Linked DNA regions of Homo sapiens: region 2 is linked to region 1. Evidence: fine-mapped expression QTL. Tissue or cell type: testis. Region 1 holds a variant in brackets; the other region holds the start of a gene. All regions are shown on one strand. Distances are from middle to middle.

What was found. PIP is the estimated chance that this variant, and not a neighbour inherited with it, causes the effect.
Region 2: it holds the start of DAW1, and the variant in region 1 is fine-mapped to the expression of DAW1 in testis (GTEx, PIP above 0.99).

Annotation. Positions count from the first base shown.
Region 1 is chr2:227,902,865-227,914,703 of GRCh38, forward strand. DAW1 (dynein assembly factor with WD repeats 1) reads left to right here. Exons shown (of 13, transcript NM_178821.3): 7 at 138-245; 8 at 2,065-2,171; 9 at 3,372-3,474; 10 at 4,274-4,388. Among named protein-coding and RNA genes, the nearest start is that of DAW1, 37 kb to the left of the region's middle. The variant C/T (reference allele first, on the strand shown) is at 5,566.
Region 2 is chr2:227,866,171-227,874,065 of GRCh38, forward strand. It overlaps DAW1 (dynein assembly factor with WD repeats 1), which reads left to right and starts at 5,461. Exons shown (of 13, transcript NM_178821.3): 1 at 5,461-5,559. The coding sequence starts at 5,520. It also overlaps the pseudogene CRIPTOP2.

The DNA.
Region 1 (11,839 bases):
GGTCACACATACGTGGGGTTTTGTACAAAGAATTAGATGGAATCTGGTAAGGTAATTGCATCTGGAAGATTTTCTGTGTATAATTAACACTTTGAAACTCTGTCTTCCTAAAATTTCTCCCATTTTATGTAATTTAGGTGTGTTTATCATTTAACCCTCAAAGCACATTGGTGGCGACTGGAAGTATGGACACAACAGCCAAATTGTGGGACATTCAGAATGGCGAGGAAGTTTACACCTTAAGAGTATGTCAATAATGTTAATAAGCCTGTTATTTGTGTTCATTCTTATTTGTGTTTTTGTTACAAAATGAGCTCTAAGTTGGAGGTTGTTGAGTTGCTGGTTTTCAAATTTTAGTGGTGAAAGAGTGTCCCTACTGGTTTCCTGGCTATTCCAAAAGACTTGGGTGGAGGTGCTGGGGAAGTCCAAGGAGCTTTTTATTTTGACTAACTTTAGTCTGCAAAACACATAAACTATATCTTAGAACCCATCACCATCTCTCTGGCTAAAAGGAAAGCAGGTGGAGGCTGGCACTTTTGGAAGAGGCAGAACTGGAGAACCATGACAAGAGAATCCTTAGAGCAATGACTGTGAGCACACTCTCCTCTGCCCGCTGGTCTTTCAGCCATCCTGTATCACAAAAGTCTGAAATGACAGAGGGGCAAGTGACCAGAGGGGAAAAGGCCAAAGGGCTCTGCCCACAGAGTGAGTGCTGTGGGGCATGCTCTTGTGTGTCACCACCATGTGCCCAGCACCTCCCCGCCATCTGTCACTCTCCCCTTCCTCCCACCCTCCCCTTCCTCCCACCCTCCCCTTCCTCCCACCCTCCCCTTCCTCCCACCCCAGCCCAAGTCACTGCAACAAAACTAGAGTGACCCTATGTTGTAATCAGCAGGAACAGCCAGATGGGAAATTCAGTTTCCTTGTCCTTTCAAAATTATAAGTACATTTTTAAAAACATGATTTGTTTCCTCAGAAAGCTTTTTCTAAGCAAGTTAAAACATGGACTGCAAAAGAAAAAAAATCACCATTTTAAAATAACAGTAATGGCTTTTCTTTCTTAAATCTGAGTATCTAGCATTATTAGTGTAAGTATACTCTTTCTGTTCTCAGTTCTTTTTTCGTTTTTTTTTTAAATCATTACTATCTCTTCCTTCAGGCAAATGTGCAGGGAAAGGTCCCCATTAATGCCACACTTTCAACTAAAATGACTCCTTTTACAGACGTGCCTAAGAGCACTCAATGGGAGGGGTCCTGCTTGGCACACCTGTCTGCGCCAGAGAGTGAATTTGTTTTGCGTACTTAGAATTCGAATATTCAACTACATTTCATTTTGTCCTTTGAAATCAATCAGAAAAATCAAGTTATAATTCAACTTTTCTAATTCTTTGTATTATTTAAAAGTATACTTATGTTAATTTACTAAAATAATGAAGGAATCAAGGGATATATGTACTCCAACCAGGATCCCCTTATCAGAGTTCCAGAATCTGCTGTGGAGAGTGGTTTCTTCCCATTATCTTACAGTTTGATTCACTAACACTAGACAGTAACCAGCTGAAAGTCAGGCCAAAGGCAGGAATTTATCAATCGATTTCATGTCAAGTTATCTTAATAATTTCCTTTTTAAAAGTAATTAGTTTTATTTCATACACTGTTTACTTTTGCATACCATGTGTTATTAGCCCATGGCATCCCCTGCTCTGTAGTGTTTCCAAGGCAGTGTAAAGGACGTCCTCTAGTTTCCCCAAATACAACCTCTTTCTTTTGTTTTTAATCAATATTATTAAGTTAAATGAACTAGCTGTGTGTAAGTCACTAATTTTTAGTAAACTCACAGTATTGTGCAGCCATTACCAAAACCTAGTTTTCAAACCTTTCCATCACCCCAAAAAGAACCCTGTGCCCACGTGCAGACACTCCCCATCCTCACCCCAGCCAACCGCTGACCTCCGTTCCTAGAGCTCGGCCTTCTCCAGCATTTCCTTTTAGACTATGATATTGTACGCTTGCAGAAATTGTTTTATCTGCAGGTATACTTGACAGTATCTGCTCTTTTTCTAGGGACATTCTGCCGAAATCATCTCCTTGTCATTTAACACCTCAGGAGACAGAATCATCACGGGGTCTTTTGATCATACCGTTGTAGTGTGGGACGCTGATACTGGAAGGTAATTCTTAGTTCTTAAGAATTGTTTTAACCTGGATCAGGGGGTTCAGAAAACCCTCTGTTATTTTTTAGTTTAAGCTACTATCTATTAACTCTGCTTTGGATTCCATAAAAATAGGACATATTGAAAATGTAAATTAATTCATTCTTTAATGATATTTCTGATTCACAAAATATGTGCATTCTTTGAATTCTGAGCAAATAATGACAAACAGCAACATAAAAGGAGAATGTTAGCAATAGTCTGGTTATATAGCTATTATTTATTTCATGGATAATCAGATTTCAATGGCTTGTCATTATGTTAGGCAGGAATATCATGTATAAATAAAAACTCTTAGTTAATTTCCCAAATTAATTTAGTCCAAGAACTTCAATTTCCTTCCTAATGATTTTTGGTCCTAGTTGCTAGGAAGTTAACTAAATTAGCATATTTGTGTTGGAAAACTCTACTCTTGGATTTGTCTGTGATTTAATAGAGGGGCTAATTATCAGGGGTGCCAACCAAGATGTATGCAACAAGAAATGATAGAGGAAGAAGGACCTTTCAGTTACTTGATGTGTAGTTTCTGAACAACCAGGGGTGCACTCACCCGGTGTAAGACTACTTCTTACGGCCTTTACTATTTGTTACCCATGTCTTTTTGAAATGTTGCCTTAAGTAGCATTATTTTGATAGTTTAAAATCTAAGTACATTTTTGTTGAAATGAAATTATTTATTTAGTTAGTTAGTTTTTGAGACGGAGTCTCGCTCTGTTGCCCAGGCTGGAGTGCAGTGGCGTGATCTCGGCTCACTGCAAGCTCCGCTTCCTGGGTTCACGCCATTCTCCTGCTTCAGCCTCCCGATTAGCAGGGACTACAGGCGCCCACCACCACGCCTGGCTAATTTTTTGTATTTTTAGTAGAGACGGGGCTTCACTGTGTTAGCCAGGATGGTCTCTATCTCCTGATCTCGTGGATCCACCTGCCTCGGCCTCACAGAGTGCTGGGGTTACAAGCGTGAGCCACCGTGCCCGGCTGAAATGAAATTATTGGTAGCTTCTTTTTGAGCAATAGTAGAGCCATATTTGTCATCAAATATATTATTTTGTAAAAACCAGATTTTAGATTAGCTTACACAGATGGGCTTGGCCTCATTATTCATGTGCATATACTGAAGTAAGATATCTTTCACTAGTTTTAATTATTTTTGTGTTGTAGGAAGGTAAATATCTTAATTGGTCATTGTGCTGAGATTAGCAGTGCCTCATTCAATTGGGATTGCTCTCTAATATTAACTGGCTCTATGGACAAAACCTGCAAGGTGAGCAAAATAAATAAATATCTTTGCTTTATATTGTGTCTATACTCTTTACTGTGTCAGATATCCATTGTAACATTAACAGATTTCAAAGATGATATAAAATTAAGATATTAATTTACAAAAAATAGTTGGTAATTTTTAAAATTTCTAGTTTTGGATTTTCCAAATTTGAAGGAATTGTGATGTAGTAAAGCAATTTGAATTGCTTCAAGTATATTAAATATCTTATTTGAGAAGGCATTTTATTTTTATTTAATATCCCACTGTTCATTTATAGAACTTCAATTAGTAGAGTGACCCTCAAGGAGCCTCAAACACAGTGTTTCCTTGTCCCTAAGTTTCTATACTTAAAAAATGGTTACTAAGAGATTATACTATGGAATTATCATTTGTTTATGTAACAAATATAATCTTATAATGTACTTTCCATTTTCTGACATTGTAGTTTTATATCAAGCTCCTAATCATTTGATGTCCTTCCTATAAAAAGAGCACAACTCTTCACCAACCAGTAAAGCATACACGTTGAGATATTTTTTCTTTCTTTAATGTAGTGGCAGATTCTAAATGTCTGACTTTGGTTTTCTCTGTGACTAGAGTGTGCCTTGCTTGATGGTTGGCTGTGGTCTCTGGTCATGAATCAAAGTAAATCTAACTGAACATGCATGAATTACACAAGTGATTTTTGCACAGTTATTTAACCAGCCATAAGCATGTCATGAAGACCACTGGCCATCTTCACACTTCAGACAGAAAGTCATAGTCTTTTTTTTTTTGTTTTTTGTTCTTTTAATTGTAGCTGTGGGATGCTACAAATGGAAAATGTGTGGCAACCTTAACAGGCCATGATGATGAAATACTAGACAGCTGCTTTGATTACACTGGAAAGCTTATTGCAACTGCTTCAGCTGATGGTAGGTGATCTGTTCATTCTTTTAATTTTTGGAGAGATTTATGCTTTGCTTGATAACCATGCATAATTCTACACTATGGGTCATTTCTTTGATGACCAGCTATGATAAAAAACCATGTCTCATCTCTATCGTGACCATGTATGGCACAATAGTGTGTCTATATCATATACCTGATAACCACATGTAATGTTATGCAATGTCTGTGTCACCTCCTACATAACGAGGTATATGAGGTCTTTGTCATCTTCTTAATATCTGTATATGATGCTATATTCTGGGTCATCTCCCTGATTTTTATTATTATTATTATTTTGAGATGGAGTCTCACTCTGTTGCCCAGGCTGCAGTGCAGTGGTGCGATCTCGGCTCAACGCAACCTCCGCCTCCCAGGCTCAAGTAATTTTCCTGCCTCAGCCTCCCGAGTAGCTGGGAATACAGGCATGCACCACCATGCCTGGCTAATTTTTGTATTTTTAGTAGAGACGGGGTTTCTCCATGTTGGCCAGGCTGGTCTCGAACTCCTGACCTCAGATGATCCACCTGCCTTGGCCTCCCAAAATGCTGGGATTACAGGCGTGAGCCACCGTGCCCAGCTTCCCTGATGATTACATATGATGTTACCCTATGTTGGCCTTGTCAACTTAATTACCATCAATGGTGCTATAATCTCCTTTACTATAACCACATGTGCTGTTCCGCTATGTCTACTGCATCTTTGTGATAAGCATACATGATGCTATGCTATACATTGTCTCTTTGATTACCACTGTGATTCTACACTATGTGTCATCTTATTGATAACCATATATAGTGCTATCCTAGGTGTGCTTCAATCCTGTGACAGTCACATGTGACACTACACTATATCTGTCATCTCCCTGTTGCTCACATGTGACATGATATTGTGTCTGTCTTATCGCCTAAGGATCATGTTTATTTCTACACTGTATCTGCATCATCTTGTTGAAAGTTGCATATTATGCTATACTGTGTTTTCATCTACTCCTTTAAAACCACATTTGATGCTGGGCCATATCTGCATCATATCCTTGATAATCATATATGATGCAAAACCATGATCATCTTGCTGACAAATATGTATGATACTAACACTCTGTCCACGTCATCTCGTTGAAGCCACATGCAATGCTATATGATGTTTTTATTATCTCAGTGA[C/T]GACCATCTGTGTTGGTGTACTATGCATGCATCATGTCCTGGATAACATTTTATGATACTGAACAACAAGTCATTCCCATGACAACCATATATGATGTTATATTATGTGTCATCTCTTTGACAAACATATGTGATGATTCATTGTGTCTGCACTATTTCCCTGGCAAGTATTTATGATGCTACTCTATGTCTGCAGCATATTCCTGAAAAACATGTGTTAACACTATACAATTTCTACATTATCTCCCTGACAATTTCCTATTTTACACTAAACTATGTCTACACCATATCCTTGATAACCACATGGTACTATACTATGTCTCCATCATCCTATGTCTCCTTGGCAAGCATATGTGATGCTATACTAAGTCTATGTCATATCGACATCACATACCATGCGTGATGCTATTCTGTGAGGCATAGAATTTGAAGTATGAACTATGTGTCATCTTCCTGAAGATACAGATGATGCTAAACTACATCGATACCATCTACCTGATGACCACGTGTGAAGCTACACCAAGTCTGTTATCTATCTGATGACCACATATGATGCTATATTGTATCTATGTCATGTATCTGACTATGTTTAATTTACACTGTTTTTATCCTCTTTATAATAATGTATGATACTATACTGTATCTTTATCCAATTATTTATAACCATATATGATACTATTCCATATCTTAGTATTTCTTAGAAATCCATGTATGATGCTATAGTATTTATACCTCATTGCCCTGGCCAACATGTCTGCAGGGTCCACTATATCACATCACCACCTTTAGAAAGGTGGTGATATTATCTATCTATCTATCTATCTATCTATCTATCTATCTATCTGTCTGTCTGTCTGTCTCCTATTGGTTCTGTTTTATACTATATATAATTTTATGTATTTTTTATATTATATATTTGTACATTTTTATATATTATATATTTATATGTATTACACTATATATACTATGTATATAATTCTGTTTATAGTATATATAGTATATAACCAATAGTATATAAATACACACACACATATATATAGTATATAACCAATATTATATAAGTATACACACACACATATTTATATATGAAGGCTGAGAAGTCTTGCCATATGCCATCTGCAAGCTGGAGAATCAGGAAAGTCAGTGGTATAATTCAGTGTAAGTCTGAAAACCTAAAAACTTGGGGGGACCAATGGTGTAACTCTTAGTCTGAGGCCAAAAACTTGAGAGAACTGAGGAGGGCACTGGTGTCAGTCTTGGAGTCTGGGGATCTGAGAACCAGAAGCTCGATGACCGAGGGCCAGAGAAGATGGATGTCCCAGCTCCAGAAGAGAGAATTTCATCCTTCCTCCACCTTTTGTTGTATCTGGGTCCTCAATGGATTGGATGATGCCTGCCCACATTGGTGAGGGTGGCTCTTATTTACTCAGTCTAACATCCTCACAGACACACCCAGAAACAATGTTTTACCAGCCACGTGGGTATCCCTTAACACAGTCAAGTTGACACATAAAATTAACCATCACAATGCCGCACTGTGTGTGTATATCCTGTTACCCACATATGACATTATACTACATCTGCATCATCTCCCTGACAACCAAATACAACATCGTGATGTTTCTGAGGTATCCTAAAACATGTGTTATGCGTACCTTATTCTTTGATAGTCATATATGATATTGTACTATGACAATTTCCTTGATGATCATGTATGATGCTATATAATATATGCATCATGGCCAGGTGTGGTGGCTCATGCCTGTTATTTCAACACTTCGGGAGGCCAAGATTGGAGGATCGCTTGAGGCCAGGAGTTTGAGATGAGCCTGGGCAACATAGTGAGACCCCATCTCTACAAAATTAAACAAAAATTAGCTAATTAAAACAAAAATTAGTCAGGTGTGGTGGCATGCACCTGTAGACCTAACTACTCAGTAAGCTGAGGAAAATAACCTGAGCCCAGGAGGAGTTCAAGGTTACAGCGAACTATGATTATGCCACTATAATCCAGTCTGAGTGACAGAGTGAGACCCCATCTTCTTGATGAATATATTTGTGGATGAACACACACACACACACACACACACACACACCCCTCATATTCTAGACAGCCATATGTGGTGTTACATTATTTGAAATGTATTGGACAATGATGTGTGATGTTATATTATTACTATATCACCCCTTTAACAACCCCATAAGATGCTATATGTTACTTTATACTATTTCGGCATCATATTCATAATAACCATTTATTACACTAGGCTACAATTAATCTCCAGGACCTACAAATATGATACTACACTATGTCCATGCCATTTGGAAAACAGGGTATGATGATACAATATTTTTGCATCATTTCCCTGACTACTATTTATGATGCTGCAGTATGTCTGCTTCATTTTCATGATAAGCACCTGTGACATTACAACATATCTGTGTCGAATCCATGGTATCTTCATATGACACAAAATTATGTGTCATCACCCAGATACTTTTTTTCTGCATCCAATCATCCATGAGACCCTGATGTCTTGTATGAAACTATGCTATGTGTCATCTCCCTGATAACATATAACACCGCCCTATATCTGCATTATCTCTCTGACAACCTAAGTAAGCTTATACTATTTTTTGAGCCATATCCTTGACAATTGTATATGAAGCTATACTATGTCTCATCATGTTTTTGGCAATGGATGAAACTATACTATGCTTGCATATATTTAAGAATCATGTATAGTTATATATATATGTATACACATACATATATATGTGTATATATACATACATATGTGTATATATACATATATACATATATACACGTGTATATACACATATACACGTGTATATATACATATATACACGTGTATGTATAAGCATATATACATATATACATGTGTATATATACACATGTGTATATATAAAATTATACATGATTATATATATTATATATATATTACATTCTGAGATATTGTGAATTAGGACTTCAACATATGAATTTTAAAAGGACACAATTCAGCATATAATAGCACATATGACATACTGTGTGTTTGCTGCTTCTGCCTGACAACTGCATATTATTTTATGTTTTTATCATCTTCTTGAAACCACTTATATTACACTGTAACTTCATCATGCCCTATACAAAGGGCTGTGCTATACCTTATGGGTGACATGGCCTAGTTATTTAAGGATGATGCTATAATATATTTACTTTGTCTCCCTGATGATCATTTTATTTGTAAGAACATGTTTTCATCCTCTCCTTGGCAACAACTTATAATTTCTCCACTATGTCTGTGTCATTGCCTTGATAACCACATGTACTTTCTGTATCATCTTTCTGACTACCACATATGATGCTGTATAACGTATGTGTTATATCCCTGATATCCACATGTGATGCTATCTTATCTCTTACCTCTCTTTAGGACCTTTATGAGATTACACTATGTCTACATCATCTCCCTGATGACCACAAATGGCAGCTACATTACATATGTGCCATCTCTCTGACACTTATGCCCCTATACTATCTGATTCATCTTTCTCATGACCATATATCCTGCTTCACTATGTATAGATCCTTTCATGACAACAATATTTGGCTCTGTGCTGTGTCTGTGTGTCTATACTGTGCTACGCTATGCTCTACTCTTCTATGCCATACCATACCATACTATACTGACTTATGTGTGTACATTGTCTTTTCTGGAACCAAGTATAATGTTACATTCTGCCTCATCTCCATGGTCAACATGTATGATGTTATGCTATATCTATGTCACCTTCTTTCTCTTTTTCTTTTTTTCTTTGAGATGGAGTCTCGCTCTGTCGCCCAGGCTGGAGTGCAGTGGCACGATCTTGGCTCACTGCAACCTGCGCCTCCCAGGTTCAAGCGATTCTCCTGCCTCAGCCGCCCGAGTTATGTCACGTTCTTGGTAATCATGTTTGATGTTATCCGGTGTGTTCATCTCTTTGATCACTGGACGTGATGCTAAACTATGCCTGTGTCATCTGCTGTCAACAATATGGTATGCTACATGCTGTGTTCCTTATCTTCTTGATGATCATATATAATGCTGCACTGTCTAGTATGTCTGTTTCATATCACTGGAGGTCTGGACATTGCTACACTTTGTGTTTGTCATCTCAGTGATGACCGCCTATTCTGCTTCATTTGTATTCTTCATTTCCTTGAAAACAAAAATGTTTCCCTATGTCTGTGTCACCTTGTTGAAAACCATACATAAGCTATACTGCTGTCATCCCCTACCTGTTAATCATGTAGGATGGCATATTCTGGGTTATCTCCTTGATGATCATATAAAAAGCTGCCATGTGTCTGCAATGATAAACATGATAATTGTGGATTGTGCTCTCATACGTTTGCATCTGTATGTCTTAGACAACTATGTATGCTACACTATCACTCCAAATTTCCTTGGCAACCATATATGATGCCACATTTTGGGTCCTATCACTGATGGTCATGTTTGATGCCCCATCCTTGACAGCTATATGTTGTACAATATTATCACTGCTTATAGCATCATAAATGTTACAAAGGAGCTTGAACATTTGGCAAGCATGTATATTGCTAAACTATTTCTCTGTCATCTCCTTTACAATCGCAATCATGTATGAGTCTGTACTATATCTGAATCATCTCCTAGATAACAAAGTGACATGCAATTTTAGGATTCATCTTTCAGAACCTCGCATGAGAAGATCATCTTCTTGATGATGATTTGTGACACTATCCTTTGTTTGGGTCTTGATATCACCACATATTGTGTTAAAACATGACTACATAATATCCTTCATATCGACATGTGATGTTATATTATGTGTACTTCATTTCCTTAATAACTATAGATGATATACTAAGTTACCGCCTTTATAACCATGTGTTATATCTCCCTATTTCTGAGTCATCACCTTGATAACCACATGTGACATTATACTGTGTGTTTCATCATGTTGAAAATCACAGATAATGCTTTTCTCCTTGATAACCACATATGATGCCTGATATTTATATGGACCAGCTCCTTTGTGACATTTATGATGCCATAATATAGGTTATTTCCATGAGGAAAACCCACAGTGCTGCATTCATGCATGTCGTCTCCTTGATATTCATGTATAATGCTATCCTATGTGCCATTTTAAAATTCCCATATGTGATGGTACTCTACATGCACATCATCCCACTGATAACCATGTGATACTATACATGTGTCATCTCCTTGGCACTGTGTATGGTTCTAAAATCAATCTTTGTAGAATCCTTGTACACCACATATATCCCTGTACTATGCATATGTCATGCTCTTTATGGCCACTGAGATGCTACAGTGTCTCTGTCATCTCCCTGATCATCATGTATGACATTACAACATGTCTACACCTTCTGCCAGAAGACAGTCATCATATCTATCTATCTGTCTGTCTGTCTGTCTGTCTGTCTGTCTGTCTGTCTATCTATCTTCATCATCATCATCATCATCATCTATCTAATCTATTGAGAGAGAGAGTCATATATCTGTATCTCTCTCTCTCTCTCTCTCTCTTTCTTTACATTAGGTCTATTCATGTTCCTAAAGGCCTTTATAATGCAACAATATTTCTGTGGCATTTCTTTGATAAACACATAGGACCTCACATCACATCTGTGTCTACCTCATTTGTTTGATAACCGTGAGTGATGCTGTACTATGTCTGCACCACCTCCTTGATAAACAAATATGGTGCTATACTGTGTCTTCATCATCTATGATCCTGTACTGAGGATTATCTTATATTTTGGGTCATTTCTCTGACCATAATGTATGATGCTACAATATGTCTGCATCTTAAACTTGATAACCGTGGCTGGTGCTATAATACTATATGCACCATCTCCTTGATAACCACCTATGATGCTATACTATGTATACCAAATCTCCTTTACAACCATTGATGATCTATGTTATTTGTCATAAGTAGTGATCTATGTTACTTGTCATAAATAGTGATTACTACTTATGATTCTACGCTGAGCCATCATATTGATATCCATATGTGATGCCACTCTGTGTCATCTCTTTGGAAACCATGTATGATGCTACACTCTGTGCACCTTATATCCAAGAAGATTACATATGACGTTACACTAGATTATGTCATCCCCCTTATGCCCACATTTGGCATTGTATTGTCTGCCTCATCTCACTGATGATCACTTATGAGGATACATGATGTCTACTTCACTGTCTGCATTAAC
Region 2 (7,895 bases), 39 kb before region 1:
ATGCCCCCACCCTGATGCCGTTCCTCCGCTCTGGGGCCTGCTGTGATGAGGTCACCTTTAAACCCTGTGCACAGCAGACTGCTCCTGCCTGGCTCTGAGCATCTGTGCCTTCTCTTTCTAGGAGAGGATTGCATCTCTCTTTTTATCTGCTGCTCTCAGTGAGGCTCCAACACCAGTGATGCAGTCATCTCACTGAAGTTGGTTTTCTCCAGGAGAAGCTGAGCCAAATGGAATCCACCAAGCCCAGCCGCAGCCGGAAGCCCTACTCCTCCCTTACCTTGCCCAGCCTCAAAAATACAGAATCTGGATCCCCCGGACTGACTCCTTCTTCCTTCTCCTCCTCCTCCTCTTTCTCTCTCTCTCTCTATAAATATAAATATATATATGTATAGATATACTACATCCATATATATATATATATATTTTGAGACAGGTTCTGGCTCTGTCACCCAGGCTGGAGTGCAGTGGTGTGATCTCAGCTCACTGAACCACCGCCTCCTAGGCTCAAGCCATCCTCCCACCTCAGCCTCCTGAGTGGCTTGGACTACAGGTGAGTGCCACCACACTGGGCTAATTTTTGTACATTTTGTAGAGATGGGGTTTTTCCCTGTTGCCCAGGCTGGTCTCAAACTCCTGAGCTCAGGCAGTCTTCCTGCCTTGGCCTCCCAAAGCACTGTGATTACAGGCGTGAGCCACCAGAGCCACCATACATATTTTGATTTTAGAGACTACCTCCCTCCCCAACTCCCATCCTCCCAGGTACCTTCTGATTCTTCCCTCAGCCTGATGTCCACTGTCCTCTCTCAGTGCATTGGAGCATCTGAAACCCAATTATGTAGAAAATTCCAGCTTCTTCCCGTGTTGTTTCTGGTTCTCATTTACATTCGAGGATGTGGTTGAACAATCAATTTACTGTTCCTGACAATCAGGGAAGACTGCCTGGAATACACAGAAAGACCTGATCATTGGAGATGAAGCCCAATTTCACTCACTTCGTTCTGTCCAAGCCAGTGTAACCTATTAAGCTAGCACAGTGGCTCTCAAGCTTCATCATTCACTAGAATCACCAGGAAAGCACATTTAAACATGGGTTGTTGGACTTCACCATCAGTGTTTCTGATTCAGTAGGTCGGGACTCGGGGGAGGCGAAAATGTACATTGCTGATGAATTCCTAAGTGATACTGACCCTGCTGGTCCGGGAACCATGCTTGGAGAACTGAAGCCTAGAGTGACTTCACTGTATTAGCCTGGATTGGTTTAGGAGATTAAAATTACTGCTACTCATTATTTAGTTTCTGGTTGTTCAAGGCAGGTCCTGGTGGGAATGTCTTAGTTCAGGCTTCCATAACAAGTACCGTTGACTGGGTGGCTCACAAACAATAGAAACTTCTTCCTCACAGTTCTGGAGGCTGGAAGTCTGAGATCAGGGTGCCAGCATGCCCTTTTATTTTGAAATAAATCAGTATACTTTTCCTAAGAACAAGGACATTCTCTTACATAACCAGTACAATGATCAAAGTCAAGAAACTTAACACTGATAAAATACTATTATCTAAACCACAATCCCTATATACAGAGTTCATCCATTGTCTCAACGATGCCCTTTGTAAGTAATTATTATTCTGGTTCAGGATCTATCATCACTCAGTGCATTTAGTTGTCCTTTTTAGATTTATTTAATCTCAAGTATTTCTTTAGAGTTTTCTTTCCTTGACTGTCAACAGTTATTTTATACAATTTCCTCAGTTTGGTTTGCTCCGATGTTTCCTTATGATTTGAGTCAAGTAATTCATTTTGGGCAGGAATTCCAGAGAATTGCTGTTTTTTTTTGTTTATTGTTTTTTGTTTTTTTTTTTAACAGAGTCTTGCTCTGTTGCCAGGCTGCAGTGCAGTGGCACGATCTCGGCCCACTGCAACCTCCGACTCCCTGGTACAAGCAATTCTCCTGCCTCAGCCTCCAGAGTAGCTGAGATTACAGGCACGTTCCACCACGCCCAGCTAATTTTTGTATTTTTAGTAGAGATGCGGTTTCACCATGTTGGCCAGGATGGTCTCGATCTCCTGACCTTATGATCTGCCCACCTTGGCCTCCCAAAGTGCTGGGATTACAGGCATGAGCCACTGCACCCGGCTTTGCTGTGTTCTCTTCAGTGCATCGTAATACCAGGTAATATATGTCAGTTTGTCCCACTATTGGTGATGTCCTCCCTGACTCAAGTGATCCTTTCACCTCAGCCTCCTGAGTAGCTGGGACAATAGGGGCATGTACCACACCCAGCTAATTAATTTTTTTGTAGAGACCGGATCTTGCCTTGTTGCCTAGGCTGGTCTTGAACTCCTGGGTTCAAGCAATCCTCCTAACTTGGCCTCCCAAAGTGTTGGGATTATAGGTAAGAGCCACCGTGCCCCACCCAAAGATCACGTTTTAAATGGGTGCCCCACCCAAAGATCACATTTTAAATGGCATGAGCACAAGCAATAACATAGGTGACCAAAATCTACCAAAGACTTTCTCATTTCTATAGAGCAAACTCTTTGCCCCTCCCTCCATAAGTCCTTCCAGAGTGTCTTAGTGGCTAGGAGAAAGTTTGAGCTGGGAGAGAGCTTGGATTTCATACGGTTCCCTGTTTTCCAAGTATGGGATGCTTACTACTGGTGAGAAAAAGATGATTTTTTTTTTGCACATTTATATTGGGTTAAATTGTGTCACTTAGTAGCAAAGGCTTTGCCATCTCAACAATCTTTTCAATCTTCTGAACACATCAAGTAGGAAGGCTCAGTTGAGTGCTATTCCGTCTTGTAGCCTGTCTTAACAATCTCAAACAGTTGCTAATTTCCTTCCTTCCCTTCCTCCCTCCCTCCCTCCCTCTTTCTTTCCTTTCTTCCTTCCTTTGTTTACAAAGAAAGGGATGGTTTTGGGTTCAGAGTCTTTGGCAGTATATAGTAATTAGTATATAGTAATATAGTAATATATAGTAGTATATAGTAATTCAATGCCTTTAGGTCAATATATTTTCCATTTTTACTGTGCATACGCATATATACAATGTATTTTAAAAGTTGGCTTTACAATATGTAGTTTTATCATTTGGTTTACAACTAAATATATTGTGAACATTTTCTCTTCTACAACAGTTAAAAGAATTGCATAGCTTGGAGGAAACATAATTTATTAAGCAGTCTTGTTGGGGACATTGAGGTATAATTTTTTTTTTATAAGGAGACTTCATTCTTTTTACAACACCTTTGGGAAAAAAATTGGAGTCCTTGTCTCATATAGCTTTCTATAGATGACGGAAACTTACCCTTCCATTTAGCCTTTTAACTTTCTTCTCTACACCCACCTAATCACCATCAAGTAACCCATTTTATGTTTTCCAACCTCTCTCTCCCATTTGCTTCCTCTTTCCTACCCAGTCTCCCTGCATACATGCAGATGAACTTCCATTCCTTCAGCCCTCTGTTTCCTCCCCTTAAAGAGGCTTTCTTTCCATTTAAAGAGACTATTTTAATTGATTTTTATCAACTCTACTCAAAACTGTATCCTAAGGTCCACATTAGGATTGGTCTTTAATAATCTGAAGATAATATTCAATTGTTTAAAAGAACTTTTAAGAAGACCTTGGTAGAATTACATGTATCAAGAAACATGACTTAGGCACAATGGAGATATGGCTGACTTTCTTTTGAAAAAAGAAGTAGTTTTTGTGGGGAGGGCAGGGCAAAGAGGTAAGAAGTATTTGGTACTACAAGGAAATGTTAGAGACCATTTTGGAAATGTATTCATTATTTTAAGGCAACTAACAAATGATCATCTTTCAGTTAGGACATTATAGCAGCAGCCTTTACTGGTCATGAAATTTGAATGATATCTAAAATCATATTTCTGGAAATAGGTCAATGTCAATTAATAGTAACTTTGTATAGAAAGGCAGATGCCAGCTAGCATATAAAAGTGGTGCATGCAGACGGTGGTAGTTCTGGAGTCCTGGGAGCCATGAGGTGCTCATCCATCACAAGGCCATCACAGCCAGGTAGAAATGCCTGAGGAAAGCAGCGGAGCTGCCCGTGCCAGCATTTACACATGGAACACTTCTTGGGCAGCCGGGTGTCATGGGGCACAGACCCACAATTCTCTTTGCGTACACCGTGCTCACAGTTCCATCCATAGAAGGAGGGGAGGCAGGCACAAAAGGACCCCAGCATGCAGGTTCCCCCATTCAGGCAGCAGGTTCTGTTTGGCTCCTTACTGTCCTGTATCCCCATGGGGGGCACAAGCTGGGAAGACCGAGGACGAATTGCAGGCTCCTCCTGGGGCTGAATGCTGTCATCTCTGAAGGCCAGGTCTCCCTGAGATGGACGCACAAGTTCCCGATGGCTCAGCCTTTAACAAGCAATTCAACGCCTTTAAAAAATTGCCTTTACTTTTACAGTTACTGGCTGTTTACTGAAAATTTCATATAATTTTAAATTTAGAAATAAAAACTTCACAGATGGAATTAAATTTCATATAATTTTCAGTAAACAGCCAGTAACTGTAAAAGTAAAGGTAATTTTTAAGATTACATTTTACTAAGTGAAGTAAAATAAGTGAGTCAATCTAGAGACATTTTAAGAACTTAAAACTTAGGTATGGATCTCTGGAAGAGGTAAGGAGAGATATGGCTCATAGTTGCGCAGATAACACAGGAATGACTCAAGTTTGAGAAATTCCAGTTGAGGCCAAATTCCTTAAAGGAAATTGACAAGCTGGTTGGCTGACTCTGTCTCTCCGCAGGCTTTCTCATGGAAACGTGGCAGGCAAACAACGATGCTGGCAAGAAATTGGACAAGCCGCATGAAGGCCTGGAGAGTTTTAAGCCCAGGTTGAGAGCACAGGTGTAGGCTTTCTGGTGTAGGTTCCGACGCACCTGCCTTCCATTCCCGCCTATCCATTTAGGCTGCGACCTCTGGTAGTTCTCCACTTTCTCTAATTCTGAGTTACTTCATCCTTAAGAAGTGGTGCATAACTCACACCTTGTTAGGATTGTATGAGTATGTGTGCATACACCGTTTAAAGCAATGTAGGGCACAGAGTCAGGAAATGCAAAATATTAAGTTGAGGTCATTTTTCTTTTGGGAGGACAAGGACAGGGCACGGGCTGGGGCCCTAGAGTAGTAATTAGCGATGGGCTTTTCCTCCCAGCCTTCCTTTTGGGAAACGCAGTGTGCTAAAAAAGTGCATGCAGCCCAGGCTGTGGCCTAGGCCGTCGGTTCCCGGCCATGCCTAGCTCCTCTGAGGTCGCCCTTAGTGAGGACACGAGGTGCCCTCACCTCTTTCACTCTAGACACCTCCAGAACACTCGCCCCCCGCGCGCCGGAGCCCCGGGTCGCCACCAACCGCCCGCGGAGCCAGACCTCCCAGCTCTGCGCCCCAGGACCGCGCGGTGCAACCTGCGCATGCGCACCCGCGTCCCGCTGCTGTTTAGCCGTTTCCAAGGCTACGAAGCCCATCGGCCGGGGATAAGAGAGCAAGAAAATGAAGCTCAAGAGCCTCCTGCTCCGGTATTACCCGCCAGGTACGCACCAGCCCGGCCCCGTCATCCCCACGTGGGACCCTGGGCTCCCAGACTGGGAGGGTTTGGGGCGGAGGAGGGCGCAGCCACTGAAAGGCGGCGGGGTCCCCAGGTGGGGCAGGAAGTCGGGCACTTCCCAACCTGTGCCCCTCATTCCTTCAGATGCTGGACTCTTCCTCAAAACATTAACAATTACTCTTTTAGGAATTTAAAGAGTTTAGCTTGACTGTGCATGTCAGTCTGTCTGCATTTATTGAGTGCCTACTGCGTACACGCTTTGTGCTCTCTGCTATGGACCTTTAAAGAAGTTCATAGTGCTTGATTTCAATGAGTGAAGTAATTATGAAATAAATTACTTAACTATTACTTAGTAACATAAGCAATACATTAATTACCTAATCCTTGCCTAACTCTAATTTTAGGTGAGGACATGGTCACCTTTAAAGAATAAGTGACACCCATTGATCACCCAGCTTCTTAGGGACAGAAATAGGAGTGCAATTCTTGGGTTCTAATTCAGAACTCGTCTTCTGAATTAGAAACATCTGCAAAAAAAAAAAAAAAAAGAAAAAAAAGAAAAAAATCTGCAAAACATACCACAAGGCAGAAGATAACCAAATACACTTGCCCAATGAAGTTTGGATAGGAAGTGTCATAAAGATTTCAAAGGAGGGTAAGATACTTTGGACCGGTTTTGTTAAGAATAGCTTTATGAGGGGTGGGACTTGAATTTCAGGTTGAATATCTCACTTTTCCCTGCAACACATCCAACTGCTTGGTCAACATCGCCGATGAGGTATCGCATAGAGATCTCATGATTTCTTTTTTCCAGTCCCATCCCAATCCTGCTGCTTCCTCAAACTGTGCCCTGCCAGTAGAAGGCATCATCACCCAGCCTGTTTTTTGCCAGAAACCTAGGTGGTCACTTTTTGTTTCTCTCCTGTGATCATTCACTGCCTCCCCCACCCCCCCAACCCCCGGCATTCCGTTATCATTCTGCCAGCTCTAAGTCCAAAATATTCTGTGAATCCATCAGATTATCCCTCTTTCCATAGCACAGATTTCTTGGTCTAACATCCCTTCCAGCTGCCAACCTAGTCCAACCCTCCATTCCAGCCACCATTCCCTTTGGCTGAGCCACTCCAGTGGCTTTTCAACTGGATTCCTGGTTTTCACCCTCATCTCCTACAATCCATCTGCCACTAGGAGCCAGTGGGATCTGAATTCAAGATCTCCAATAGCTTCCTATCATGCTTAGAATACGATCCGCAACCTGTGGGATTTGGCTCATTCTGTGCTGCTGACTTCTAAAACTTCACTTGTCTACCCTCACTATACTTCTGACTTCTTTAGCTTGTTCTTCTAAGACTTAAGAGAGGGCCTTTCACTCATTCGTTTTTTGGACCCAGCTTTCCCTAGAGCTAGGAAAAGCTGCTTCCTTTTCTTCATTCAGTTTCAATCAATGTCAACCACCTGAAGAGACTTTCCTACCTATTCAAAGTAGCCTGCACTGATTTTACTCTATGCCATAAAGTGCTTAAAAATTATATTTGTCATCATCCAAAACTCTACTTGTTTTGTTTCAAATGTCTGCCCCTTTCCCATTTAATGTAAACTTCGTGAGAACTAAGATCTTAGTGTGGTTTGATCATTGTAGCACCCTCAGCTTCTAGAAGAGATTTGGTGACACAGAAGATCAGGAATGTTTGTTGAATGAATGTATGGATAAATGGATGTGTTTGATGAGAGGTCAGGTATGGAAATTACTGAAAATAAACACTGAAAATCTTAAGGGATGCTGCTTCTGCCTCCCTGGAAGACCGATCCTGGACAGCTACTTTCTCCAATGGGAAGTTGACATTTGTAGAAAAGACATGCATTTTCTCCTTCATAGAATTCCAGTTAAAATAATATGAGAAAGCTATATATATGACAGTATCTAGATAAATTTATTTTATGTAATTAATTAATTAATTTAATTTTTGAGACAGAGTCTTGCTCTGTCACCCAGGTTGGAGTGCAGTGGTGCAATCCAACTCCACCTCTTGGATTCAAATGATTCTCATCCCTTAGCCTCCCAGGTAGCTGGAATCACAGGTGTGCACTACCAAGCCCAGCTAATTTTTGTATTTTTAGCAGAGACGGGGTTTCACCATGTTGGCCAGGCTGGTCTTGAATTCCTCACCTCAAGTGATCCACCTGTCTTGGACTCCCAAAGTGCTGGGATTACAGATGTGAGCCACTGCATCAGGCTGAGAGTATCTACGAAATTTAAATTAGGCATAGGTAGATAGTATATAGAAAATTTAAAATTAAGACTAATAGTCTGTTTCCTTTAA